Linked DNA regions of Homo sapiens. The protein of the gene in region 4 purifies or fractionates together with the protein of the main gene of each other region. This does not show direct contact. Each region holds a gene or a part of one and is shown on either strand. Other genes may lie near its edges.

The links.
Region 1: the proteins of PLK1 (region 4) and DVL2 purify together in Homo sapiens (affinity purification with mass spectrometry; 6 studies listed by BioGRID and IntAct, with this or other methods). This does not show direct contact.
Region 2: the proteins of PLK1 (region 4) and RAI14 purify together in Homo sapiens (affinity purification with mass spectrometry; 6 studies listed by BioGRID and IntAct, with this or other methods). This does not show direct contact.
Region 3: the proteins of PLK1 (region 4) and TOPBP1 purify together in Homo sapiens (affinity purification with mass spectrometry; 5 studies listed by BioGRID and IntAct, with this or other methods). This does not show direct contact.

What each region holds. Positions count from the first base shown.
Region 1 is NC_000017.11:7,224,842-7,231,541, forward strand, and holds the end of DVL2 (segment polarity protein dishevelled homolog DVL-2), read right to left. Parts: intron 6,354-6,700; exon of another isoform or gene 6,040-6,353; intron 5,957-6,039; coding exon 5,887-5,956; intron 5,590-5,886; coding exon 5,444-5,589; intron 5,315-5,443; coding exon 5,205-5,314; intron 5,103-5,204; coding exon 4,967-5,102; intron 4,838-4,966; coding exon 4,747-4,837; exon of another isoform or gene 4,709-4,746; intron 4,607-4,708; coding exon 4,537-4,606; intron 4,434-4,536; coding exon 4,294-4,433; intron 4,205-4,293; coding exon 4,128-4,204; intron 3,204-4,127; coding exon 3,136-3,203; intron 2,943-3,135; coding exon 2,814-2,942; intron 2,695-2,813; coding exon 2,563-2,694; intron 2,429-2,562; coding exon 2,249-2,428; intron 2,118-2,248; coding exon of another isoform or gene 2,089-2,117; exon of another isoform or gene 2,046-2,088; intron 1,799-2,045; coding exon 1,580-1,798; intron 1,473-1,579; coding exon 1,024-1,472; 3' UTR 501-1,023; downstream 1-500. Other genes in the region: ACADVL (very long-chain specific acyl-CoA dehydrogenase, mitochondrial), read left to right, coding at 1-43, 116-256.
Region 2 is NC_000005.10:34,820,311-34,827,334, forward strand, and holds part of RAI14 (ankycorbin), read left to right. Parts: intron 1-1,421; coding exon 1,422-1,540; intron 1,541-2,645; coding exon 2,646-4,181; intron 4,182-6,019; coding exon 6,020-6,169; intron 6,170-7,024. UniProt on the Homo sapiens protein: Plays a role in actin regulation at the ectoplasmic specialization, a type of cell junction specific to testis. Important for establishment of sperm polarity and normal spermatid adhesion.
Region 3 is NC_000003.12:133,658,932-133,666,201, reverse strand, and holds the start of TOPBP1 (DNA topoisomerase 2-binding protein 1), read left to right. Parts: upstream 1-4,689; intron 4,690-4,855; coding exon of another isoform or gene 4,856-4,976; intron 4,977-5,067; 5' UTR 5,068-5,074; coding exon 5,075-5,158; intron 5,159-7,051; coding exon 7,052-7,186; intron 7,187-7,270. Other genes in the region: uncharacterized protein LOC124909487, read right to left, coding at 3,154-3,303, 4,169-4,689, 4,856-4,976. UniProt on the Homo sapiens protein: Scaffold protein that acts as a key protein-protein adapter in DNA replication and DNA repair. Composed of multiple BRCT domains, which specifically recognize and bind phosphorylated proteins, bringing proteins together into functional combinations.
Region 4 is NC_000016.10:23,681,882-23,688,905, forward strand, and holds part of PLK1 (serine/threonine-protein kinase PLK1), read left to right. Parts: intron 1-182; coding exon 183-276; intron 277-1,988; coding exon 1,989-2,208; intron 2,209-5,587; coding exon 5,588-5,743; intron 5,744-6,786; coding exon 6,787-6,864; intron 6,865-7,024. UniProt on the Homo sapiens protein: Serine/threonine-protein kinase that performs several important functions throughout M phase of the cell cycle, including the regulation of centrosome maturation and spindle assembly, the removal of cohesins from chromosome arms, the inactivation of anaphase-promoting complex/cyclosome (APC/C) inhibitors, and the regulation of mitotic exit and cytokinesis.

The DNA.
Region 1 (6,700 bases), on a different chromosome or scaffold from region 4:
GGCCCAGCATGAGAAAATGCTCTGTGACACCTGGTGTATCGAGGTGAGACTCGGGGCTGCCAAGCTCAGGTGAGGGCTGGAGGTGCAGGCCCAACCCCTCCTTCCCTCTCCCCAGGCTGCAGCTCGGATCCGAGAGGGCATGGCCGCCCTGCAGTCTGACCCCTGGCAGCAAGAGCTCTACCGCAACTTCAAAAGCATCTCCAAGGCCTTGGTGGAGCGGGGTGGTGTGGTCACCAGCAACCCACTTGGCTTCTGAATACTCCCGGCCAGGGCCTGTCCCAGTTATGTGCCTTCCCTCAAGCCAAAGCCGAAGCCCCTTTCCTTAAGGCCCTGGTTTGTCCCGAAGGGGCCTAGTGTTCCCAGCACTGTGCCTGCTCTCAAGAGCACTTACTGCCTCGCAAATAATAAAAATTTCTAGCCAGTCATGCTTTGCTCCTGTGTGACGGTTCTTTCCCCCTGCTGCCTGCCTCCCTCCCAAAGAAAGGAGCCAGAGGCGTGGGGAGTTTGCCTCTATTGCTTTATTTGGTGTTTTATACAAGTGACTAAAATAAATAGAGTAACAAAGGCAGCTACATGGCCCAAATCTCCCAGCTTCCTCAGGCTGCTGTCTAGGATGCCTAACCCCGGGGTACCGCTGACCACCCCCAACCCTGCAAAGGGCAGGGCTGTGGGTAACTGGAGGAGGAGGTCACATTCTGGGGTTAGAAGGGGCCCAATGGATGGGAATTCTTCATATAAAAGAGGAAATGCCTATTAAAAAAGTCCCAAAAATGTAAGAAACTCTATTTTAACCCCCAAAAAGGCTTATAAAAAAACAAAGCTAAAAATAATCAAAGGTCCCTTGTCTACCCCTGAGGGAAGGGGGAGGAACCAGGCACTGCTGGTGAGAGTCACAGTGGCCACAATCTCCTGTATGGCAGCAGCTGGTAGGCTGAGCCCAGGCACTGTAAGAGCAAGCACATGACGGCCAGGACACCCAGTCACACACCAGGAGCGCCCGGCCCAGCCTGGCCCCACAGTGGGCTACATAACATCCACAAAGAACTCGCTGGGATTGCCCATGGCCATGTGGAAGCTTTGGCGGCTGGCTGTCAGTTCTGGGGGCACAGAGCCCAGGTCTCTGACTGGAGGGGCCCCCGGAGGCTGCACTGCTGGAGGGACTGGAGGTGGAGGTGGGGGCATCATGACCACCATCATGGGGTTGTAGGGGAGGGCCATGCCAGGGGGCGGTCCATAGGGATGGAGCCCTGGGTGGGCTCGGAGATTAGGGGCACCCCCAGTTGAGCCTCTGGATGGAGGAGGGCCCCCATCGCTAGTCCCACTTGCTTCCCCACCCCGCCGAAGGCTGCCCCCTCGGCTGGAGGGCTCAGACTCACTGCCACTGCCGGACTTGGACTCGGGGGCCCGCTCCTCGGGCCTCCCCGTGCGCCCTGCCCCCCCATCACTCCGTGTCGACCCACTGCTCCGGCTGCCTGTGGAGGGAGGGGAGGGGCAACTGAGTCCTCACCCAGGCTCCTCCCTGGCTCCCCTCTCATCCACCCTCAGATCCTGGCCGTACAGGTATGTGGGGATGACTTACCCTCACTATGCTGGCTGCTGGCACTGCCCCCACCATAGGTGTAAGATGAAAGCTCATGGTAGGGTGGAGGCTGCGGGCTGTAGGGGTGTGGGGCAGGGTATTGGTAGGAGAAAGTGGGCAGCAGGGGCCAGGGGGTGGCCCCAGGCAGAGGAGCCAGGGTATCCTGGTCTGAAGCCCCACTGGAGCCATCGTTGTCATTGAGAGACAGGTTGACTAGGTCTGGAAAGCAAGGGAAGAGAGGAAGAAATCACTGCTTCAAGAGGCTAGGGCCCCAAGACACCGAATGGAGAGGAACTGGGAACAGTTCTCCCAGACCCACCCACGATGGGGCTCAAAACAGGGGTTCACAAGGGTCTCTGACAAGAAACTCCCATCTACTTCTGCCATGAGGGCAGGGGCACAGCCACTAGCCCACGTCTTTGCGGGACTCAGGTAAGAGGTGCACCTTCCCCCGGTGGACACAGTCCTGCACCTGGCACATGGCTTGTCCAGCAGCACATGGGTGGACGTCAGCCCCCATCCTCGGCCAGTGCAGGACCTAGTGCGGGACACACACTGCTCGACCATCCATGGTGGCCCTGGCTGCGGTTTCTGGGCTAGGTCTAGGGTTGGAGAGGCAGAACAAGGTAGGCAAAGCCACACTCCCAGAGTTGGGGCAGGGGGACTTACAGCTCTCACAGCCACCACTGAGGTCTCCGAAGACGTAATAGCACTGCTCAGAGAAGGTGATCTTGTTGACGGTGTGTCGGATCAGGCCTGCTTTGAGCAGCCCGCTGGCATACTTGCGGGCCTCCCGCCGCTCAGGAAAGCCCTCCACGTGATGGTAGAGCCAGTCAACCACATCCGAGCCTGGGAGCACCCACAGTGGAAAAAGGCCTCAGGTTCTTCTTCCAACTCCTGCTCTCGCCTCTGCCTGTGCCATTCCTGGCTTTGGTCACCACCTCCTCCCCTTCTCCAGCCACCTGCCCAGGACCCAGCCATACCCAGAAAGGCATTAGGGATGGTGATCTTGAGCCACATGCGGTCCCGGACTTCCAGTCCAGACTCTGGAGCTGCCATGGCCTTGGTCACCGATGCCATGTCCGTATGGACGGAGAGACCCCGGCCTTCACAGCCTGGCAGAGGAGACAACGGGTAACCAGAGTCAGGGATCGCTCCCACAAGGGCAATGGATCAGACCACTGCGGGACAGCCTTCTGCTGGGAGGGTGGGATGAGGTGGGCTGGCGGCTCACCATCAGGCAAAGACGATCCAGATGTAATGGTGCTCATGGAGGAGGAACCTGGATAGGCTGGGAAGGTGCCAGTCAGAGCCGCGGAATGGGACACCCAGGCAGCAGGGTCAATTGGCTGGATGGGCTCATCTGGGACAAAGATGGCACCAAAATGACCCATTCTCAGTCCCCAAAAGCCAGCCCAGTCCCTCCCTGACTCAGCCTCCTGTTCCACCTCTGCCTGGACCCTCCTCCCACCCATTCCCCATGACCACAGGCCCGGCCCCAGCCTCCTGGGCAGCCCCCACCCCCAACTTCAGGCCCCTCCCTGAGTGTCACTCACTTCGGGGGAGAGTGAAATAGGCCTGAGGAGAGGGATCCCAGCACTTGGCCACAGTCAGCACAATGGGGCTATGGGGAAGAGAAGTCCAGTCAAGGGCGCAGGGGAAGAGGAGGCCTCAGGAGGGCGGGGGTCTGAAGCAAGGATGGATTAAGAGACACAAAGAGGGGGAGAAGCAAGCACATCGCGGCTGGGCTAGAGAAGGTGAGGGTGGAAGGCACCACAATGTGGATGACTCATCAACATGGAAAACTCTTAAAAACATACTGCCAAGTGAGACAAGAGAGTACACGCTGTACAGTTCCATTCACAGAAAGTCCAAAAACAGGTAAAACGAAACTGCAGTGTTCAAGGATACGTGCAAGGGTGGTAACTATCCAGTGAGGCAAAGCTTTTCTTTGTTATGGTGATGGCCAAAGAAGTCAGGAGAGTGACTACCCCTGGGGCAGTGAGGCATTTGGGAGCAGGAAGGGACATCTGAGGAGGAAGTTCTAGGGTATCAGCAATCTCCTATTTGATGATCTAGATGGCAGTGACATGGATATTTACTCTAGTATTATTTGCTATGTCATGCATTTGTTTCATGTACTTTGAACGTTATGTCTTAGCACTTTTTTTTTTTTTTGAGACGGAGTCTTGCTCTGTCGCCCAGGCTGGAGTGCAGTGGCGTGATCTCGTTTCACTGCAACCTCCACCCCCCAGGGTTCAAGTGATTCTCCTGTCTCAGCCACCTCACTAGCTGGGACTACAGGCATGTGCCACCATGCCCACTTAATTTTTCTATTTTTAGTAGAGACACGGTTTCACCACATTGGTCAGGCTGGTCTCGAACTCCTCACCTCAGGTGATCCACCCATCTGGGCCTCCCAAAGTGCTGGGTTTACAGGCTCGAGCCACCACGCCCGGCTGTCTTAGTACTTATTAAAATTCCAAAACAAAACATGAAAGAGAAAAAAAAAGAGGACTGAGGACCGGCAACCTGCTTGGCAACTCACCCAGGCTTGTGCACAATGTCCCTCAGCACCCGCACAGCGTCATCGTTGCTCATGTTCTCAAAGTTCATGTCATTCACCTGGAAGCGACGGCAAGTGGGTCAGAGACACGGTGGGAGAGGCTGAGGGCCCCCGTGCAGGGCAGCTCAGTGGCCCTACCCCAGCACACCTGCAAAAGCATGTCCCCTGGCTCAATGCGCCCGTCGGCCGCCACAGCCCCACCCTTCATGATGGAGCCAATGTAGATGCCTCCGTCTCCCCGCTCATTGCTCTGGCCAACAATGGAGATACCCAGGAAGTTGTACTTCTCTGTGGAGAGAGGCCATGTGAAAAGAGGAGCCCCTGCCACAGGACGCCCGGAACCCTAGAGACCAGGCCCTCCCCACGCCCTAGCCACAGGCTCTCCCCATACCCATGTTTAGCGTGACTGTGATGATATTGAGAGACATTGTGGAATCTGTGACGCTGCTGAAGGATGACGTCTGTGGTGGGAAAAGGAGCCAGAGTGCCCTTCAATAACCCAGGGTCAACCCTGGGGTGCTGCCGGTGTCCTGGCACCGCCCAAACCAAAGCCCATGCCCCACCTTCTCCCAGCACCAGCCTTCCTGTAGGAACCCCTCACCCTCTCCAGGCGGGGTGGCCTCTGCTTCCTTCGCCGCCGGTGGCGCTTAAGGAGGCGGGAGGCACTGCTCTGCTCCGTGGAGCTGCTGAACCTACCAGGAGGTTGGGAAGGAGAGCAAACGTAGGCCAAAGTGGTCATGGGGCCAAGAGAAAGAACAAGAGGATTGACTGGAAGACGAGACGGGGCTGGGTGCGCTGGGGAGAGCTGTGCGGAGCCACACCTGCTCATGGTGTCCTCCTCGTCCGAGTCCCCCAGGCTGGTACTCTCCAGCTCGCTGGTCATGAGGGTAGAGGAGCTCTCGTATCCGGCCAGGTGGCGCTCCAGCCTTGAGGGGCCACCAGTCCTGTGGCCCCCAGCTACATATGGACAGGAAGCTCAAGAACCAAGCTTCCCCCTGCTCACCCCACCAAGGCTGGGGTCTGGCCCAGCCCTTCCCGGCCCCCAGGCCTGCCCCTCACCGCCATGCTCACTGCTGTCTCTCCTGCGAGGCCGCTCCCGCCTCAGTGACACTACTGACTCGGTTTCTGTCTCAGGCTCCAGATTCTCATGGCTGCTGGACACATTAGGGCTGGACAGGCAGAGATGGTTTCCAACCCACATCAGGAGAACAGGGCTCCGGATCCTAGGCGTCCCCTACCAAAGGCCTGGGTTCCCTCCTCACCTCCCTCCCCTGCAGTCAAGAATCTGAAGGACTCACTGGAAGGATGGAGGCCTTGAGTCCCCAATGCCGCTGGTCCTCTCGGGTGGCAAAGGAGGTAAAGGTGGGGCTGGAGGCGCCAGTTCTGCCCGAGGCTCATGGACTGGAGGGGCCATCTCGGGTTGGGGATTATCTGAGGACACCAGCTAGAAGGGTGCAAATGATAAACAGTGGCTCACTTGGGAGTCAGGGTGTGACAGGTGGCAGTAAGTGAAAGAATGAGAAAGGGTCTCAGAGAGCTGGAGAAGAGCAAAAAAACCTAGCAAGTATTAGAGACTCCAGAAGGAGAAGGCTGAGGGCCTCTCGCCGGCTCTCCAAACAGACAGGAGGTAAAGAGCCAGGGCTGCTAACGCGCGGCCTGGGGAGGATACAGAAACAGACTGAGGCTTGAGGGAGCTTGGCAATGCTGAGGGGGCCTGGTCCTCGGTGTCAGAACCTCTTACCCAGGATACCACCCTTCCGTTGAAGCAGGGGAGGCGGGCGTTGTCATCTGAAATTTCTTCCTTCACCACCCTGCCAAGCGACAAGGTAGAGGTCAGTGAGCTGGACCAACCATCCCCACCCCGACCCCCATCAAACTTTCTCCCAATCTTCACCTGGCTCCAGGATGTTGACTTTCTCCTGCCCTGTTCAGGTCTTCTCTTACATTGAAAGAACTCACTCCGACACCTAAGAAATCTCCAAACTCAATCCCCTTTCCTTATTTCTCCTCTCCCTAACGCACCCTCAGGGGCACAGTGCTGCTCCAAAGACTTCCTTGAGTCTGACTCAAACCTCTTAGTCCAGTTTCAAAAGCAATCCCGCACGCTGATGCGGCTGCCTGAGATACCTATCTAATGAGACTGGCTGGTGGCCTCCTCTCAACCCCACCCCTGTTCCTTACAAACCTTCCAAAAAGGTCAGGCACGGTGGCTCACACCTGTAATCCCAGCACTTTGGGAGGCTGAGGCGGGCGGATCACCTGAGGTCAGGAGTTCAAGACCAGCCTGGCCAGCATGGTGAAACCCCATCTCTACTAAAATACAAAAATTAGCCGGGCATGATGGTGGGTGTCTATAATCCCAGCTACTCAGGAGGCTGAGATGGGAGAGTCGCTTGAACCCGGGAGACAGTGGTTGCAGTAAGTCGAGATCGCGCCACTGCATTCCAGCCTGGGCGGCTCAAAAAAAAAAAAAAAAAAAACCTTCCAAAAAAGGCTTTGGTCCTCATCAAAGCCTCTACTCTTATACTTTCCTTTAGTTTTCTCTAATTCATTTC
Region 2 (7,024 bases), on a different chromosome or scaffold from region 4:
GGCCCACACCTGTAATCCCAGCACTTTGGGAGGCCGAGGTGGGCAGATCACCTGAGGTCAGGAGTTCGAGACCAGCCTGGCCAATGTGGCAAAACCCCGTCTCTACTAAAAATACAAAAATTAGCTATTACATAAAATTATTGAGATTTTATGTAATAGTTAATTATTGAGCATGCCTGTAGTCCCAGCTACTTGGGAAGCTGACGCAGGAGAATTGCTTGAATCTGGGAGGCAGAGGTTGCAGTGAGCCGAGATCGTGCCACTGCACTCCAGCTTGGGTGACAGAGCAAGACTCCATCTCAAAAAGTAATAATAATATTAAGTTTGGACCAGAAATTCACACAGTTACTTCACTAAGCACATTGTTTTGTTCAGCTGACATATCTTTTGTAGGACTTTCTAGATGAAGGAAGCAGTACATTGCATTGCATTCTGGAGGAAGTTTGCTATCTCTGTGAGCACCTTGAATAGCACTCCTTAAGTTGCAATTTCAGCATGATAATCAGTAGGATGTCCGAAAGTTGTGGTTTACCAACAGGGATTACTGTGGGATTCAGAGAAGAGAAGATAGTTTCATGCTAGGGTGGTCTTTGAATGCTTTAAGGACTGGGCAAAGTTTGACATGATGCTTAAGAATTCTCTAGGCAGAGAGATTCTGCAGGGCAATCCTGTGGATAAAGAATGAAAGAATCAGCCGTGTGTTGAGAATGTAGAGGGTGTGATGGGAACCATGAATCTGAGGAAAATAGGAATCTAGAAAAGTAGCAGTGTCATGAACCTGAAGAAGTAGACTGGAGCCAAATCATAGAGGCCTGAACCCAGATAAAGGAATTTGGAGATTATTTTTGGAGGGAAAACAATTAAAGCACTTGACCCAGAGGAATGACCCAATCAAAGTATGTTTTAGGAAGACTGGTCTGACGTTGCTGTGCAGGCTACAGTTTCACTGGGAAGAAGAGAGAGGCAGAGATTTGTTGGGAAGCTGTTTGCAGAGTTTCCAAGTAAGGTGATAAAGTCTTAACTACAGTAATGGTGGTAGGGGGAAAGAAATAAACCAGATTCCAGAGACATTTCTAAAATGATTCACATAACTGAGACTTACAAGGCACAGGGAAGAACCAAAAACAACCAAGATATGACACTTAAGCAAATGAATAGGAAATATATGACCAAATTCATCAATTTTCAGATTGCCTTGTGTACACATGTATCTAGTATTGTGCTAGCAATACCACAGTAAGGAAACCCCAGTTTCCTTTCTATATAAAATGAAAATTTTAGTTCACCCATCCAGCTGCTAGGGCGTTTTATAATTAGGGCCAGGAAGAAGAACTGGATTAGGCTAGGAAGTGAATTTGTCTCAGGTTAGAGAAATAAGAGTTTAATTGTTTTATATTTTAAATGGCTTTCTCTTTCCCAAGGTGCTGATAGCTTATTGGATATAAGTTCTGAAGCTGACCAACAAGATCTTCTCTCTCTATTGCAAGCAAAAGTTGCTTCCCTTACCTTACACAATAAGGAGTTACAAGATAAATTACAGGTATATAAATAGATTGCTATCATGGACTATTCTGTAGAGTCAAGCTCTTGGTCTTTTCAGTAGTCAGATGTATTTTGTTTTAAATGTGTACATTAGTTTCTTTTTAAATATTAGCTTTAAGCATCTTATAGTTTCAGATTATTTGTTTCATGAGAGTGTTATTCATTAACTCTTTCTGTAAATTATTCAACTGGTAAATTATAAATAATTATACACATAGTATGATCAGTATTAAATATTCTATATGTTTAATAAATTATATAAATAAAACAAAATTTATAGAAAAAATTCTATATAAAATATACTATATGCATAGAATGATGCATAATATATAATTTTATATTTTGATTTTATATATATTAAAATTTTACGTTTTAAATTATATATGTATGTGTGTATGTATATATATATATATATATATATAAAATATTATCCATTTAGTAAAGTTGATCATTTAACAGGTTTAAGTACTTGATAAGAAATGGCTGTACCAAAAAATAAGAAGAAGAAATAGCTGTACTATATATCCATTACCCCTCTTGGCAAGTAGAATGATATAAGAAATAAAGGAAATTTTTGAATTGGAGGCTTTGTAGAGAAAACAATTTTAGTGTTTTCAAAGTGACACAAATCGTCTGTCCCAATAGAACCCAAAGCAAGCTTTGTGTCATTAGTCCCACTCATGTCCCAGACTGTCTTTTTTCATGGCATGAGAATACACAGGCAAAGTGATCATGCTACTCTCCCGTACCAAAGTTGCGGATTTACTCCTCTCATTCTAGTTGCTTGCTTAGCTAACCACGCCTTTGGTATCTTTTTTTTTTTTTTTTTTTTTTTTTTTTTTTTTTTTTGAGACGGAGTCTTGCTCTGTCGCCCAGGCTGGAGTGCAGTGGCGCGATCTCGGCTCACTGCAAGCTCCGCCTCCCGGGTTCACGCCATTCTCTTGCCTCAGCCTCCCGAGTAGCTGGGATCACAGGCGCCCGCCACCACGCCCGGCTAATTTTTTGTATTTTTTTTTAGTAGAGACGGGGTTTCACCGTGTTAGCCAGGATGGTCTCAATCTCCTGACCTTTGATATCATTTAATTCTTGCTTTTTTTTCCTAGGCCAAATCACCCAAGGAGGCGGAAGCAGACCTAAGCTTTGACTCATACCATTCCACCCAAACTGACTTGGGCCCATCCCTGGGAAAACCTGGTGAAACCTCTCCCCCAGACTCCAAATCATCTCCATCTGTCTTAATACATTCTTTAGGTAAATCCACTACTGACAATGATGTCAGAATTCAGCAACTGCAAGAGATTTTGCAAGATCTACAGAAGAGATTAGAGAGCTCTGAAGCAGAGAGAAAACAGCTACAGGTCGAACTCCAATCCCGAAGGGCAGAACTGGTATGCTTAAACAACACTGAGATTTCAGAGAACAGCTCTGACCTCAGCCAGAAACTTAAAGAAACTCAGAGCAAATACGAGGAGGCTATGAAAGAAGTCCTTAGTGTGCAGAAGCAGATGAAACTCGGTCTTGTCTCACCTGAAAGCATGGATAATTATTCACATTTCCACGAGCTGAGGGTCACGGAAGAGGAAATAAATGTGCTAAAGCAGGATCTGCAGAATGCATTAGAAGAAAGTGAAAGAAATAAAGAGAAAGTGAGAGAGTTAGAGGAAAAACTGGTAGAGAGGGAGAAAGGTACAGTGATTAAGCCACCTGTGGAAGAGTACGAGGAAATGAAAAGTTCATATTGCTCTGTTATTGAGAATATGAATAAGGAGAAAGCATTTTTGTTTGAGAAATACCAAGAAGCCCAAGAAGAAATCATGAAATTAAAAGACACACTAAAAAGTCAGATGACACAGGAAGCCAGTGATGAAGCTGAGGACATGAAAGAAGCCATGAATAGGATGATAGATGAACTCAATAAACAGGTGAGCGAGCTGTCACAGCTGTACAAAGAAGCCCAGGCTGAGCTGGAGGATTACAGGAAGAGGAAATCTCTAGAGGATGTCACAGCTGAATATATCCATAAAGCAGAGCATGAGAAACTGATGCAATTGACAAACGTGTCCAGGGCTAAAGCAGAAGATGCACTGTCTGAAATGAAGTCTCAGTATTCAAAAGTGTTGAATGAGTTGACCCAGCTCAAACAACTGGTGGATGCACAAAAAGAGAACTCTGTCTCTATCACAGAACATTTGCAAGTGATAACCACGCTGCGGACTGCAGCAAAAGAGATGGAAGAAAAAATAAGCAATCTTAAGGAACACCTTGCAAGCAAGGAAGTGGAAGTAGCAAAGCTGGAGAAACAACTCTTAGAAGAGAAAGCTGCTATGACTGATGCAATGGTACCTCGGTCTTCCTATGAAAAACTCCAGTCATCCTTAGAGAGTGAAGTGAGTGTGTTGGCATCGAAATTAAAGGAATCTGTGAAAGAGAAAGAGAAGGTCCATTCAGAGGTTGTCCAGATTAGAAGTGAGGTCTCACAGGTGAAAAGAGAAAAGGAAAATATTCAGACTCTCTTGAAATCCAAAGAGCAAGAAGTAAATGAACTTCTGCAAAAATTCCAGCAAGCTCAGGAAGAACTTGCAGAAATGAAAAGATACGCTGAGAGCTCTTCAAAACTGGAGGAAGATAAAGATAAAAAGGTTGGTGAAACTGTATTGCTGTTGGGTTTCTAGCAATAAGTCTTAGTCTCTTTGGCTTTTACTATATTAAATATTTCTAGTGTTGGCACTAAACTGGAGTGAATGCTCAGAGGCTCTGCACATGAACTTTATCTGTCACCAAAGCCACATTAAGAATAGTTTGTTGGGTCGGCCGGACGTGGTGGCTCACGCTTATAATCCCAGCACTTTGGGAGGCCGAGGTGGGTGGATCACTTGAGGTCAGGAGTTCAAGACCAGCCTGGCCAACATGGTGAAACCACGTCTCTACTAAAAATACAAAAATTAGCTGGGCGTGGTGGCACACGCCTGTAATCCCAGCTACAAGGGAGGCTGAGGCAGGAGAATGGCTTGAACCCAGGAGGTGGAGGTTGCAGTGAGCCAAGATCAGGCCACTGCACTCCAGCCTGGGCAACAGAGTGAACAGACTTCATCTCAAAAAAAAAAAAAAAAAAAAAAGAATAGTTTATTGGGTATTTGTATTTTAAAAACACATCTGCTGGGCATAGTGGCTCACTCCTCTAATTCCAGCAGTTTGGGAGGCCATGATGGGAGGATGGCTTGAGACCAGCCTCAGCAATATAGTGAGACCCCATCTGTACAAAAAATTTAAAAATTAGCCAGGCATGGTGGTATGAGCATGTAGTCCCAGCCACTTGAGAGGCTAAGGCAGGAAAATCACTAGAGCCCTACAAGTCAAGACTGTCATGAGCCATATCAACACCACTGCATTCTAGCCTGGGCAACAGAGTGAGACCCTGCCTCAAAAAATAATCAATAAGCAAACATCAATCTTCGGCCACTTCTCCTTATACTAAAGCATTTTCATATATCTGTCCTTTAAAAATCATTTTACAGAAGCTTTGCCAGTATTGGGGATCAGAAGTGAACCTGCAAACTGGAAAGTATTTGTGATCCACCTCAAACTTCAGGTTCTTTTTTTGGATTCAGAACAGATTCCTCCATAATATGAAACTAAAATACTCCTAGACTTAATCCTGTTTCCCTAAGGTCCATGAGCTTCCCCTCAAGTCACTGTAAAAGCTACCCTCGCCGGTCCCTCCTTTGACAGGTATATAGGAGAGGAAGGGGGAGGAATGTGGGGAGCCGGCAATTTGAGATGGCGCTGGACACAAGAGATGGTGCTGGCCGTGCTGCTGGAGGAAGGAGGGAAGCAAAGGGGAAGTTCAGGGGGATGGTTCCACGCCTCAATCGGCTCTGCATCTCTAGTCCCCTGTCTCGGAGGTTCCGAATAGCATTCATGAGAGACTACTTGTCTTTATTCTTTTGTAATGAGTGTTTCAAAAGAGCTTTATCATCCAGGGGAACAGGGATTAGGGAGTGGTGGGGTACGGTGAGGAGTTAGTTGTGTTTACTTTAAAGAAAGACGTCCAGAGATATCAGGCTTCCTAGACCTTATTCCTGATCACCCATGTCAGCAGTATTGGACAAAATATAGCTGTCTCCAAATAAAAGCGGAAATCCTAATTCTGATTTTTTTTTTCAATCATACCCATTTTAAGAGTAAAAGTAGGAAACCAACATCACAGCTTTTGTTACCGCCATCACCAAAACATAATATGTAATTCAAGGGCCTTTATCTGAACCTAATGGATGTAGCGGGCTTTGTTAGTTTGCCTGATTTTGTCATCCATTTCATTTTATGAGTTTTTTAATTTAAATGTATTAAAAAGGAATTGTTCCAAAGTCTTAAGTCCCAGAGGCCAAAAGAGATGACTATGTTTGAGGCTTACAAATATATGAAATTTTGCTTTGTAGACATGTTACTGTCTGCTAATACCATTTTCCTTTGCCCCTAGATAAATGAGATGTCGAAGGAAGTCACCAAATTGAAGGAGGCCTTGAACAGCCTCTCCCAGCTCTCCTACTCAACAAGCTCATCCAAAAGGCAGAGTCAGCAGCTGGAGGCGCTGCAGCAGCAAGTCAAACAGCTCCAGAACCAGCTGGCGGTGAGTGGGCTTGTTTCTGCTGCCTGGTTTGGGGTGGAGGGCCTGGCAGATTTCCTACCATCTCAGCTGCTAGGGCAAGTGGGCGTGAACAAAAAGATTCCCAGCCCAAAGGAATGTACTTCAATGAGCAGTTGACTGATTTCTTCAGTGAGGGCAAAAGAGGGAGCCACTGGTGGAATTCCTGGTCGTTATCAGCAATGCAACGGGTCAGATATTCACTGGGAAGGAAAGAACCGACAGGACAGTAGGAGGAGGCTATGTGCTCACTCATACCCTAACTTTTTACCCCTTCTCCTTTTTCTGCAACAGTCTTTCCCCATCTCTGGCAGTGGCAAGAGCTTTTTCTTGTTAGGGGCCAGGATCTCTAGTAGTTGCATCTCTATATATCTGAAGCTGCTTCTTGGCCCCTCTCCTTATTTCACCCAGGAAAGCCCTTGCTTATCTAAATTTGTTTCCTGGGTCCATTGTAACAAATCACCACAAATTTGGTTTAAAACAACATGAGTGTATTATTTTACAGTTGCATTGAACTGAATTCCAAAATCACTTTCACTGGACTAACTTCAAGTTGTTGGCAGGGCTGGTTCCTCCTCGAGACCATAGGAGAAAATCAATTTCCTTGCCTTTTCCAGTACCAGAGGCTGCCTGCATTCTGTGGCTCATGGCCCCTTACTCCATCTTCGAGGCACATCACTCCAGCATCTGCTCAGTCTTCCCATCTCCTCCTTCAGCCTTTGATTTTCTTGCCTCCCTCTTATAAGGGCTCTTGTGATTACATCTAAAGCCCACCTAGATAATCCACGATAATCTCCCTCTCCATCTCAAACCCTTAATTTCATCTGCAAGATGCCTTTT
Region 3 (7,270 bases), on a different chromosome or scaffold from region 4:
GACTCCATCTCAAAACAAAAACCAAAGCAAATTGTACATTCATTTATTTATACGTATTTATTCATTTACAGCATTGGAAACAAACATAAAACTCTATAACTCAAAAAACCTATTTTTAGTTTGGCTTTAATTTTGAGAAATATTATCTATGTAGTAAAATATAATAATAAATATTCATATTCCCACCACCCACATTGTAAAAGTAACTATTTTGTCATATTTGTTTCCTGTGTTTTCTTTCCCGTTCTTTTTTTTTTTTTTTTTTTGAGATGGAGTTTCGCTCTTTTTGCCCAGGCTGGAGTGCAATGGTGCAATCTCGGCTCACCACAACCTCCGCCTCCTGGGTTCAAGCAATTCTCCTATCTCATCCTCCCGAGTACAGGCGCCTGCCACCATGCCTGGCTAATTTTTTTTATTTTTAGTAGAGATGGGTTTCTTCATGTTGGTCAGGCTGGTCTCGAACTCCCGATCTCAGATGATCTGCCCACCTCGGCCTCCCAAAGTGCTGGGATTACAGGCATGAGCCACCACTCCCGGCCTCCTTTTCCATTCTATAAACAGATAAAGTTGCCCATAATGTCACCCCAAGCAGGGTCTGGAGAGACTGGCTCTAGGTGACAGAAGTGCCAGAGAAACAGGAAACTGATCCTAAATGCCAGGAAAGTGAGGGAAAAGTTAATTCCCTACCCCAACTACATTTTTTTTTCTTTTTCTTTTTTCTTTTTTTTTTTTTTGAGATAGGGTCTCACTCTGTTATCCCAGGCTGGAATGCAGTGGCATGATCATGACTCACCACAGCCTTGACCTCCTAGGCTCAGGTGATCCTCCCACCTCAGCCTCCTGAGTAGCTGAGACTACAGATGCCCGCCACCACGTTCAGCTCATTTTTGTATTTTTTGTAGAGATGAGGTTTCACCATGTTGCCCAGGTTGGTCTCAAAGTCTGGGGCTCAAGCAATCTGCCCACCTTGGCCTTCCAAAGTACTAGGATTACAGATGTGAGCCATAGCACCCGGTCCCCAGCTTCTTTTTTAAAAAAGTTTGTAAATATTAGAGATGGGGGTTCTTGCTACGTTGCCTAGGCTGGTCTCGAACTCTCAGCCTCAAGTGATCCTCCAGCCTGGGCCTCCTAAAGTACTAGAATTACAGGCGAGAGTCACCACGACCGGCAAATATGGAATGCTTCACAAATTTGCATGTCATCCTTGCACATGGGCAATGCTTATCTCTGTATCATTCCATTTTTTTTTCAGTAAACATGCTGCCAAAGTAAGCACCGAAACCTCAGCTTCCGAGGGCATATCATAACCTTTCCCTGTTTTCACCAAAGTCTTCAGGGACCACAAACCCATATACAGTTAGTTCCTTGTATCTGTGGGTTCCACATCTGAGGAGGTCAACCAACCGGGGATCAAAAATATTCAGAAAAAAAATACAATTTTTATGTAAAATTTGCCATAGTAGAAAAAATACAACAATAAAAAAACAAAATTTAAAAATACAGTATAACAAACGTTTACATAGTATTTACATAGCATCAGGTATTATAAGTAACCTAGTGATTATTTAAAGTACATGGGAGTGGCCAGGCGCAGTGACTTATGCCTGTAATCCCAGCACTTTGGGAGGCTGAGTCAGGTGGATCACGAGGTCAGGAGTTAAAGACCAGCCTGGCCAACAAGGTGAAACCCGTCTCCACTAAAAATGCAAAAATTAGCCGGGTGCGATGGCAGACGCCTGTAACCCCAGCTACTTGGGAGGCTGAGGCAGGAGAATCGCTTGAACCCCGGGGGTGGAGGTTGCAGTGAGCAGACATTGTGCCAACTGCACTCCAACCTGGACAACAGTGAGACTCCGTCTCAAAAAAAAGAAAAAAAAAGTACATGGGAGTATGTGCACAGGTTATATATAAGGTACTTGAGCATCTTCAGATTTTGTTATCTGTAGGGGGCCTTGGAATCAATCCTCCGTGGATACTAACCATTTCACCCTTTCCTGAAGGACTGCTGTTCAAGCAAACTTTAATGTGTACCAAAATCACCTGAAGGGCACAGATTGCTAGCCCTACCCCAAGTGCTCCTGACTTAATAAGTCTGAAGTGGAGCCCAAGAATTTTCATTCCCCCAAAATTCCCAGGAGATGCCGATGCTGCTGGTCCAGACACTACACATCAGAACCACTGCTTTATCCATTTTCCAGGAGTAGATACTAGAGACAGACCCTCTCTGCTTATCTGGAGACACAAGATGGGAGAACTTGCCCCCTAGTGGTGAACTCTTACTCTAAAGACAGGTCACTCCTCTGGTATCAAGTTCCGGCTGGGTAAAAGCTAAAGGGTGCATTTTCTTCATCTTCATTAGCAGCATCTATGAATCTCCTTCTCTTGTGAGGTCTCTACTTGGCCCAGAAATGCCAGGAATGGGCTCCCTCCCCGGTGTGGAACTTCACACAGAGATGGGCAGACAGCACGTGCCCAGGAGCAGTGTGGTGTGTCAGGAAAGGCACGGGCAAGTGACACAGTCCCTGAACTTCACTTTCCCCATCTCCATAACATGAGACAATGATACCCATCTATTATAGGGTTGCTGAAAAGAGTAAACGGGAATAGTGTGAGCAGGAGTCCCATGTTAACTGTAAAGTGCCCTAGAAATATTAATTGTTATTACAGATTCAGGTCAGATTTGCACCTTAACAATTAACTGTGGTTTCTTTTTTTTCCCACCTCTAGTGATTTTTGTTTTTTTGCTTTTAAGGCTTTCTTCACCCTTCCCCCAGCAATAGGCCTTTACCTTTGAGCCCCAGTGTTAATTGATTCTGACTCATTTCTGGTAAAAAAAAAAAAAAAAAAAAATTAATGATATTTATTAAAGCACAGTAAGACAGATTTTATTCCGGACCATCAGGATAGGTATAGCAACCATGGCAATGGGATTCTGAATTAGGAGAGAGAGAGTGGGCTCAACTCTAAATACACCATGGGCAAGTGGGAATTTATAGCCAAGGAACAAAAAGCTTGGGGTCACTGGATAAAAAATTACTAAGAAGGAACTTCAGGAGTAAAGGGGTTTCTTGCTGAAAATAGGTCAAGGTGATCAGACATCACCTTGGATGGTAGAGGATGAGGAACCTGATCAGATATTGAGGGTAGAGGGTTCTAACTGGATTTTCCAAGGAAATGCACAGATAAACCTACGAGAAGGTTGAGGAGTCTGACTAAAGTTTGGCCAAGCAAAGAATCTTTGTCACCTTCCATCGGTGTATTCAAAAACTTAAGACTCAAGCTGCTCATTACTATCTTTAGGCTCTAAAAAGAAAAGAAAAACAAAAACAATCAAGGGACATGGCATTATACTTTTACATTAGTAAATCCAAAGTCATTTTCTCAATCTCAGCAGTGAATAATAAAATGATCCTCATTAGTATAGTGGCTAGATTTTATAAAATAAGAAAAAATTTTTTTAAAAAAGAATAAAATGAAAAGAAGCAACAACGAATCAGTTTTCCGCTGGTTATCACTAAGGTTTGCAGGCCCATCTTATCCCCTCTCCCTTTGCTCTCTGCCATCTGAATCTTAGGTTCAGTCCCAGAATCTCCCCAGTACTGAGGCAGATGCAGAGAAAGAGAACGGCGATGTCCACTGAAGGGGAGGAGGAGGGGAGACCATTGAAGATCTTGACAAAGATCCCTTTGCATTAGCTGTGTAATAAGTCATCCTTTCTTCCCTTGCCATCTTGTGGCTGTGTTAGGCGGTGATTCTATTCCTGCTGTGTTGGAGGGAAACCACCCAGTCCGTAGTCAGAAGACCTGGATGCAGTATTAATTCTACCACCTACTAGCCGTGTGCCCTTGAACCCATCATTTAACTTCCTCCGTTTTTACATCTACAAAATGGAACTACCACTATTTGCCTCACGGAATTGTTTTGGATAATACCTTTTCCCGTGCATGCCTGGTATAAGACAGGTGTAAAATAAATATCTATTGAGGAAATCCTTTCTTTCCCTGGCTTTTTTAACAGTAAAGGAGTATTCCTGGCCTGTGGTCCTACCTCTTGAACCGACGGCGCTGGGCCTACTCGCAGCGGAGACTAGGCCCGCCCAGCAAAGCCCTAAACCCAAAGGGTCCGGCCCAAGCTTTCCCTGAAGCCCCACCGCCCACAGACTGCTCACCTCCACGTTTGACATTTCCGCTCTTCTGCTGCAGCTGCCGATGGCGTCACTTCCACCGGAAAAGGCAAGCGCGGCCGCGCGGTTGGCGCGAAAGTCGGTTCCCGTTCTGGGCAATTTCCGGGTTCTCCAGCGTTTGCTTTGGGGTAGGGGCGGCGCCGAGTCGGGGGAGGGGGCTGTGCGCCGGGCTGGCGCCCGACCCCAGCCACCGCCCTGCGGCCAGCGCGTCCCCCGACTCGCCGCCCGGAGACCCCGAGGCTCCAACGAGGTAAGTGAGGCGCGGAGTGGGGACACAGCTCCTCCCCAGCCCCAACTGGGGTTCGCGATGCCTTCTGTGGCCTTCAGGACCCTCTTTTCCTGTCCTGGTAACTGGCCCTGGAGCCGGCGGGTGGGCCTTTGACGCCGAGAGGACGTGGCTTCCGTGATCCCAGAGCCAGGCCTTTTCCTGGAGATGGGAACCGGAGCATCTAGCCTTATGCAGGGCCAAGACCATGCTAACTGGCTTCCATGTTTATATTTAAAATCTGTTTACTGAGGGATGAACGTACCTCGCAGGCCGTGGGTATCCGCAGGGACAGATACACTCTGTGTATCCTTAAAACAAGTGCAATTGAATGTCCATTGGCCTAAAGGGCTTAGAGCCTTCATAGCAGGGCCTTCCTCAGTGTATTCAATTCGGGTTAATTTTGCTGTCTGATTTGCAAGGATTGGTGTTGTCATCTTTTACCTTGGCTTTGTCCAAGTTCCAGGATTTCTTAGAAATGCCGTTGACGAATTCACGGGCAGAGCCAGAATGTCTGTCTTTAGGCATTCTTGTCTGCACAGAAAAATAGGTAGGTTAAACATGCAACTTTTTATCTAATGTGGTTTTGTTCTTGTTAATGGTTCCTTTATTTTGACAGTTCAGAAATGTCCAGAAATGACAAAGAACCGTTTTTTGTGAAGTTTTTAAAGTCTTCAGACAATTCCAAATGTTTTTTTAAAGCTCTCGAGGTAAGAGTTGAAAACATCTTAATACCGTGAATTCATTTTCTTGTTTTTAAGTGTTTTTGATTTGTTGGGCTTTATGTCTTAGAAGTAGATATTTCACTTTCATAATAATTTTATAGTCTACATTAATACAGATATATCATTATCACATATTTTTGAATTGATCTAAGTACATCATTATGTATTTCGGGGGGCTGGAAGTCTATTATCACATTGCTGTTTAATATGGCTGACCTACAGTTCTTGGAAATTAAGTTGCTTTCATTTGTCTCCTAGCCAGAGTGGTCCTTTGCGTGCTGTAGAAATTTGAGTCAGTTGTGTACTGGTCATACTTGAAAATTTTTTGGTTAATTGTTAAAAATTATGTTTTATTATGTACAGTATAATAATTGGATGATAGTAGGGGTGATGTAGATCCTTGCTTCTCACAGAACCCAGCAGTATCAGCATGGCCTGGAAGTTTCTTCGAAATGCAGAATCTTGGCCTCCAACCCAGACTTAGAATCTGCATTTCTAACAAGATCTTCAGTGTGCATTAAAGTTTGAGAAGCATTTGTAGCAGATTTTTTTAAACTTCATTCATTCAGCAAGTATTTATTGAAGTGTTCATGATTTGATAGGCACTTCTCTAGTACTTGGGATTTATCAGTGATGAGAACAGGCAAAGATTTCTGTTCTTTCAGAGCTTACATTCTAGCAGGAGGACATAGACACTAATCAGACATGATAAATTAGGAAGAGAAAAAAGCAAAACACGTTAAGGGGTTCCAGAGGATGTTTCTTGGGGTGGGAAGAGAAGGGGGTTATAATCTTAAATAGGGTGTGATCAGGGTAGGCTTTATGAAGAAAAAGATATTGAGTAAACGTGAAGGAGGTGAGATAGCCTTGCAGATATCTGGAGAAGAATGTTGCAGGCAGAGAGAGCAACCTTATACAGCCCCTGGGAAAGTGCCTGTAGTCTCTATCCAAGTTTAGTGTACTGTTGTGTAGTGAGTGAGGGATGGGGGAAGAGTACTAAGGAATGCGTTAGAGAATAATGGTAAAGAGGTCATGTAGGGCCTTGTGGGCCATTTTTCTCTCAGTGGAGAGCCATTGGAGGGTTGATAATCAGAAGAGTAAACATGATCTGACTTACAGTTTTAAAGGGATTACTGTATTTAACATAAGGACCTCAAAATTGGTTCAGAACATTTCTGAGTGCTTACTGGGTGTCAGGATATAGTAGCAAACAAGATACATAGAAACTTCCAGGGGAGAGAGACAAAAACTATATATATATATATAAATACGTATTTTTAAATAGAATAGACTAGAAGGGTAGAGGAAGGGTATTTGAGAAAGCCTGATTAGGATGGGCATCTCTGGGGAGGTGACATTTAAGCAGACCTGATTGAAGTGGGGGATTAAGTCAGGTGAAAACCTGGAAAAAAAGTATTCTGTGCTGCAAGATCAAGAGCAGAGCCTCTAAATGAGGTTATGGTTGGCTTGTTCCAGGGTTGGCAAGAAAGCGGGAGTGGCTGGAATAGAATAAGCAAGAGAGATGAGAAGTAGGAGGTAAAGGTGGAAAGATAGGCAGGAAACCAGACTGTGTTGTCTTGAAGGCTGTAGTAAGAAATGTGGATTTTATTCTGGGTGTGGTGTGAAGACATTAGGTTTTGAGCAGATAGTGACATGATCTGACTTGTGTTTTTGAAAAGATTATTAGCTGCTGTGTAGAGAACAGATTTAGGGCAAGGAAGGGAAAAAGAGACCACTTGGGAGCCTTCTGCAGAGGTCTAAGTGAGATGTGATGGTGGCTTTCAATAGGGAAAAGGCTGGATTTGAGATGGAATTTGAATAGGACCTAAATACAGGAGAGTAATTTCAGGTACATTCTTATTTTATTTTTTCTTTCAGTCCATAAAAGAATTCCAATCAGAAGAATATCTTCAGATTATTACAGAAGAAGAGGCATTGAAGATAAAGGAGAATGATAGATCACTTTATATCTGTGACCCTTTTAGTGGCGTTGTCTTTGATCACCTCAAAAAGGTTTGCTGACTTCTAGTGTGTACCTTTGGTAGTCTATTTTTTGGTTTATCTTTGCTTTAATGGACATACATTCTTTGCGGATTA
Region 4 (7,024 bases):
TATTCTAGCCAATGTCATGGCTTCTGGGGCTGCTCAGTGGACTTAGGGATTGTCTTCAGGGGCCCCAGAGTTAGAGTGAGTGTCCAGAGGATGCCTGACCTTTGTTCTGACCCTGAGATGATTTCTCTCATGTCTGGGTTGTGGCTGGGAGACTGGTGCCAAATCCTACCTTGTGCTTACAGGTATACCTTGTTAGTGGGCAAACCACCTTTTGAGACTTCTTGCCTAAAAGAGACCTACCTCCGGATCAAGAAGAATGAATACAGTATTCCCAAGGTGACTAATGATGCTTTAAGTTTACATTTATTTTGTTTTCCCCAGAAGCTGTTTATGGAGCCCAGCAATATCCTAGGACCAGAAATAGGTCTATCCCACCTCTAAGGTAGCCACAGAGCTTGAGAGGGCCTGTGTCTGAAATTGCATACAGAACTTGACATGTATGTGCACATAAGCATTTTTTCTAGGGGGAGAGAGTTGGCAGATTCTCAAGAGATTGGGTAACCCAAAAGTTGTGTAAAAAGCAAAAAACAAAGGAGGTAGGAAGGAGTAGGAGGCAAAAGTGCTTAATCTTTAGAAATGGTTTATCTTAATTCAAATGGATTCTGCCACTTAGCGAGATCACATTGGGCAAATGGCCTGCATCTTTTTTTTTTTTTTTTTTATTTGAGGTGGAGTTTTGCTCTTGTTGCCCAGTGCAGTGGCATGATCTTGACTCACTGCAACCTCCACCTCCCAGGTTCAAGCGATTCTCCTGCCTCAGCCTCCCAAGTAGCTGGGATTACAGGCACCCACCACCTCGCCTGGCTTTTTTTTTTTTTTTTTGTATTTTTAGTAGAGACGGGGTTTCACCATGTTGGCCAGGCTGGTCTCGAACTCCTGACCTCAGGTGATCCACCCGCCTTGGCCTCCCAAAGTGCTGGGATTACAGGCGTGAGCCACCATACCCAGCCTGGCCTGCATCTTCTGAACCATAGTTTCCATATATAAAGTGGAGTTCCTGCCTTGGAGCACCTCACAGAGTGCCTTGCATGTGGTGAGTGCTCTCAGAATTATGAATCACTGTGAATCCCAGGGCTTCCTAATGGCATAGTTGTGTGCATTTTCTTTTTTTTTTTTTTTTTTTTTTTGAGATGGAGTCTCGCTCTGTCGCCCAGGCTGGAATGCAGTGGTACAATCTCGGCTCACTGCAAGCTCTGCCTCCCAGGTTCATGGCATTCTCCCGCCTCAGCCTCCTGAGTAGCTGGAACTACAGGCACCAGCCACCATGCCCGGCTTCTTTTTTCTGTATTTGTGGTAGAGACAGGGTTTGACCGTGTTAGCCAGGATGGTCTCGATCTCCTGACCTTGTGATCCACCTGCTTCGGACTCCCTAAGTGCTGAGATTACAGGCGTGAGCCACCGCGCCCGGCCATGGTGTGCATTTTCACAACCACCAACAGAAATACATTTAAAGGAATAGCTGGTTCCTGCAGAAGCCTAGCACACAGCCAGTTTGAAGTGTAGTGTCCTTGTGTGAAGCCAGGAGGCCTGTCACCATAAGGACAGACATAGTAAATCCATCACAAAGTGTCAGTTCACTGTCAGAGACAGCATGGAATCAAGCCAGCTAGACAAGGCCTTCACCCTCTCTGTGCCTCACTTTCCTCCTCTGTGAAAAAGGGATGATAATAGATCCCCACCCCTTAGATGAGTTGGTGAGGGCTAAGTGAGCTAAACACAGGAGTGCTTAGAATGCTTTCCTGGCACATAGTGAGTGCTAGGAAAGTGAGTTGGTGTTCGGCCACAGTCCATTGACCCTTCTGTCAATGGTGCTCAGTAAAGCTGACAGTGGAGAACTTGGCATTGAACCAAGTTGTGAACCACTGACCTGTGGTGTATTTGAGACTGGGGGCTGCATGTGGGCTGGGGACCTGCAGCTCCTTTGAGGCCGTACTGTACTCCAGGTCCCCTTCACATTCTGCTTATGGCTGTCCCTCTCTCTGCCCCAGCACATCAACCCCGTGGCCGCCTCCCTCATCCAGAAGATGCTTCAGACAGATCCCACTGCCCGCCCAACCATTAACGAGCTGCTTAATGACGAGTTCTTTACTTCTGGCTATATCCCTGCCCGTCTCCCCATCACCTGCCTGACCATTCCACCAAGGTTTTCGATTGCTCCCAGCAGCCTGGACCCCAGCAACCGGAAGCCCCTCACAGTCCTCAATAAAGGTACAACAAGGGTCTGGGTAAGAGAGCAGACCCCCCAGAGAAAGCCCAGGTTGTAGGGGTGTGTGCAGCTTAGTCCCTGGCCCTGAGAGCTCAGGTGTGGAGTAGGACAGGCCTCTGTCCTTCAATCCGTGGTTCCAATGCCCATCTGCTTCTCGGCCCTGCCAGGAAAGACTGACCTTACCATGGCTGGATAAACGTACCATGCCCAAGAAGAAGAAAATGGATTGAATGCCAAGCCTGAAAAATTCTTTCAAATCACTTTAATTAATTTAATTTTTTGGAGACAGGGTCTCTCCTCTATTTTCCAGGTTGGAGTGCAGAGGCACAATCACAGCTCACTGCAGCTTTCAACTCTAGGGCTCAATTGATCCTCCCATCTCAGCCTCCCAAGTAGCTGGGACTGTCAGGCATGCACCACCATGCCTGGCTGACTTTTCTAATTTTTGTAGAGACAGTGTTTTGCCATGTTGCCCAGGCTGGTCTTGGAACTCCTGGGCTCAAGCGATCCTTTCACCTCCACCAAAGTGTTGGGATGACAGGCATGAGCTGCTACATCTGGCCTTTAAAAAAATTTCTAACACTTTTTCATGATTCATTGAAAAACATAAAAATTTCCTTTTTTTTGTGGCGTGATCCCGGCTCACTGCAAGCTCTGCCTCCCGGGTTCACGCCGTTCTCCTGCCTCAGCCTCCTGAGTAGCTGGGACTACAGGCGCCCACCACCATGCCCGGCTGTTTTTTTGTATCTTTTAGTAGAGACGGGGTTTCACTGTGTTAGCCAGGATGGTCTCAATCTCCTGACCTCGTGATCCGCCTGCCTCGGCCTCCCAAAGGGCTGAGATTACAGGCGTGAACCACCAGGCCCGGCCTTTTTTTTTTTTTTTTTTTTTTTTTTTTTTTTTTTTTTTTTTGAGACAGGGTCTGGCTCTGTCTCCTAGGCTGGAGGGGAGTGGTATGATCTCGATTTCACTAAGGATACATAGTTTTAAAAAGTCACTTGAAATACTTTTTTTCTCTGTGGATATATCACCAATTTGATGTACAACTTCAGTTCATTTTTCAGTTTTCAATTTTTAGGTATTGGTTTTTCTTAAACTTCATTTTGGAATAATTTTAGGCTTATACAGAAAAGTTGCAACAACAACAAAAAACTCCCCAGAGTTCCTACATACCTTGCAGCAATTATTACAGTGGAATTTTTTTTGAGACAGGTCTCAGGACTTGCTGTCACCCAGGCTGGAATGCAGTGGCTCACTCATAGCTTACTGCAGCCCCAACATCCTGGGCTCAAACAGTCCCCCTGCCTTACCCTCCAGAGTAGCTAGGACTACAGGCATGTGCCACCATACCCAGCTAATTAAAAAATTTTTTTCTTTGGGAGGCCGAGGTGGGTGGATTGCCCGAGCTCAGGAGTTCGAGATCAGCCTGGGCAACATGGCGAAACGCTGTCTCTACTAAAAATACAAAAGACTAGCCGGGCGTGGTGGTGTGCACCTGTAATCTCAGCTACTCGGGACACTGAGGCACAAGAATCACTTGAACCTGGAAGGCGGAGGTTGCAGTGAGCCGAGGTCTCACCACTGCACTCCAGCCTGGGCAACAGAGCGAGACTCTGTCTCAAAAAAAAAAAAAAATTTTTTTTTTGTAAAGACAAGATCTCACTATGTCGACCAGGCTTATCTCAAACTCCTGCCCTCAAGTGATCCTCCTCGGCCTCCCAAAGTGTTAGGATTTACAGGTGTGAGCCACTGTGCCCTGCCTAGAATGATGTTCTAATGGTAATTTTTCTTTTCCTCACTTTTTTTGCATTTAATAATTGGAATTCTTCTGTAAGGAAGAGCTGTTCCTTCTCTCCGATTGATTTATTTATTTGGTTATGTCTGAAATAGACTCATGGATATTTTTATTCTTTGGGCTATATTTTAAAGGATTACTTATTTCTCTGCTTTTATTTATTTTTTTAAATTTGAGACAGGGTCTTGCTCTGTCTCCCGGGCTGGAGTGCAGTGGCACAGTCGTACCTCACAGTAGCTTTGATCTCCTGGGCTCAAGTGATCCTCCAGCCTCAGCCTCCCAAGTAGTTGAGACTTTAGGCATGTGCCACCGCGTCTGACCAATTTTTAAATTTTTGGTAGAGATGAGGTCTTGCCCACACTGGTCTCAAACTCCTGAGCTCAAGTGATCCTCCTGCCTCAGACTCCTACTTTTTTTCTTTCAGTTTTAATTTTTTATATAGCATTTTAAAAACTTAAGGAAATTTTCAGTTACCCGAAGGTGGAGAGAACTGTATGATGAGTCCCATGTTTCATCTATTTTTACTAGTTATCAACATTTGGACAGACTGTTTTATTTATTCCAGCCTCCTGCCTTTTTTGTTACCGGTGTTTTAAAAAATTATTATTTACTATTTATTATTATTTATTTGAGACATTCTTGCTTTGTTGCCCAGGCTGGAGTGCTGTGGCAAGATCATGGCTCACTGCAGCCTCCACCTCCTGCGTTCAAGTGACTCTCCCACCTCAGCCTCCCAAGTAGCTAGGACTACAGGTGTGCCACCATGTCCAGCTAGTTTCTGTATTTTTAGTAAAGACAGGGTTTTGCCATGTTGCTCAGGCTGGTCTCAAACTCCTGAGCTCAAACAATCTACCTGCCTCGGTCTCTCATAGTGTTGGGATTACAAGTGTGAGCCACTGGGCCTGGCCTTGCTGGAGTGTTTAAAGCAAATCCCTAATATCTTATTATTTCATACCCAAGTCCCTATCATGACATCGTTTTTTAATTGAAAACTTAAACATTTTATATTATACAAGGAGAATTAGCACATGGTGGTGGGGGAATAAATAAATAAGGAAAAAGACAATAAGAATAATCTGTGTTTCTACTGCCCAGATATAATCAGCGTTAAAATTTCATGTTATCTTTTCAAGCTTTTTTGGTTATAAATAAGCATATAAAGCAAATTTTGGGGTGGAAAAAAATTTCTTGTGTTTTTATTTAAATGCCTACTGAATCCATTCTGTGGATGAACTGAACTACTCAGCCCTTCCATCTGCCTGGATGCTGAAGATGCTTTCCATTCTTTGCTCAAAGCTGGGCAGCTCTGAGCTGCTGGTGCCTTCAAGCTGTTTGCCTGAGTGGCAGGTCATCCTGCAGGGCCACACCGTTGGGTCAGAGGCCACGGCTTCTGAAGATCTGTTGCCTCACAGTGAGCACTATGTGCCTGTCACCTGAGCATGGCAGCTGCTGCTCTAGTAACCAGGCACTGATTCAGTTTCCCCAAAGCAGTGGTAGCTAAGAGAATTTTTCTTTCGGAAGAGTTTCAGCTGTGGCAGGGGAGTCCCGTGCCCTTCCCAACGCCCCTGTTTTTGTCACCTTCCTAGGCTTGGAGAACCCCCTGCCTGAGCGTCCCCGGGAAAAAGAAGAACCAGTGGTTCGAGAGACAGGTGAGGTGGTCGACTGCCACCTCAGTGACATGCTGCAGCAGCTGCACAGTGTCAATGCCTCCAAGCCCTCGGAGCGTGGGCTGGTCAGGCAAGGTGGGTACTGCGGGGCCCTGGGCGGGGCAGGATTGCTTGGGGCATCTGGAAAAGGCAGGAGGAGGCTTGGCCAACAAAGCACTGGTGACTTGTTCAGGCCCTGTCTGCATAGGACCATTGGTTTCCCCATTTCCTGATATCCAAGGCCCTGCTTCCGTGGCTCCTGCCGCCTTTTCTGATCCGTCTTTTTTACTCTAGCACCTCGATGTGCCACCTTCATACGCTGTTTCTTTTGCTCAGTAAGTTCCTATTGTATCTTCAAGACCCTTGAAATAACAGACCCAGATGTACTGCAGCCTCAGGGCTTTCTCCCTGGTCCTGGCACGAAAGCACTTCTTCCAGACACCACATGGCTCACACTGTGGCCTCCTTCAAGTGTCTGCTCCAGTGTCAGCTCTGTGAGCATCTCCCTGGCCCCTCTGCTGGTGCTTCTCATCCTCTTGCCCACTGCATAGTTCTCCATAACACTTCTCACCCAACATAGTCCAACATGTCCTTCTTTGTTTATTGGATTTAAATTAAGGGGTTTGTTGCATGCACTGAACGTAACATTTTGATGTGTTTGCAACTGGCTTCTGTCTTCACAGTTTCTTAATTACTCCAAACTGGAAAACTAGATGCCTCTGACTCTTACCATGATAGAAGTCACTGATATTTTGCCCATACTTAAATTGATTAGTCTTTGCCCCTACAACCACAGTGTAAGCTCCGTGGAGGCTGGGGTTTTGTCTGTTGCTCACTGAACCTGCAACAGTGCCTGGCACGGTAGGCCTTCAGTAAATGGGTCAGTGGAATGAAGGAGTGAGTGGAACTTGGTGCGCTGTGCTGAGACTTTCTCTGCAGAGATATCTGTGCTGCTGCTTGTCTGAGCCTGCTGGCAGCAGAGGCCCTGCTTTGCTCTTCTCTGGGGCCCTAGGCCTCTCAACTGAGCCCAGGTGGGGTGCCCAGCAGGCTTCCCTGTTCCCTGGTGTGGGCCACATGTGTGGAGCAGAGGGGAAGAGGCTGGTCCTGACCAACTAACTGTCTGTCTGTTTCTGTCTCAGAGGAGGCTGAGGATCCTGCCTGCATCCCCATCTTCTGGGTCAGCAAGTGGGTGGACTATTCGGACAAGTACGGCCTTGGTAGGTTTCTTCCAGAACAGGTGGGTGACTCAGGCACAGCCAGGTGACCTTTTCAGTTGTTACAGACTCTGGCCTTTTTGAGCTCCCAGGTACTGTTCTCAGTGCCCTCCTCTCTCCATCCCAGGCCTCCCAGTTCCAGCTCCCAGTGCTCCCTGACTCC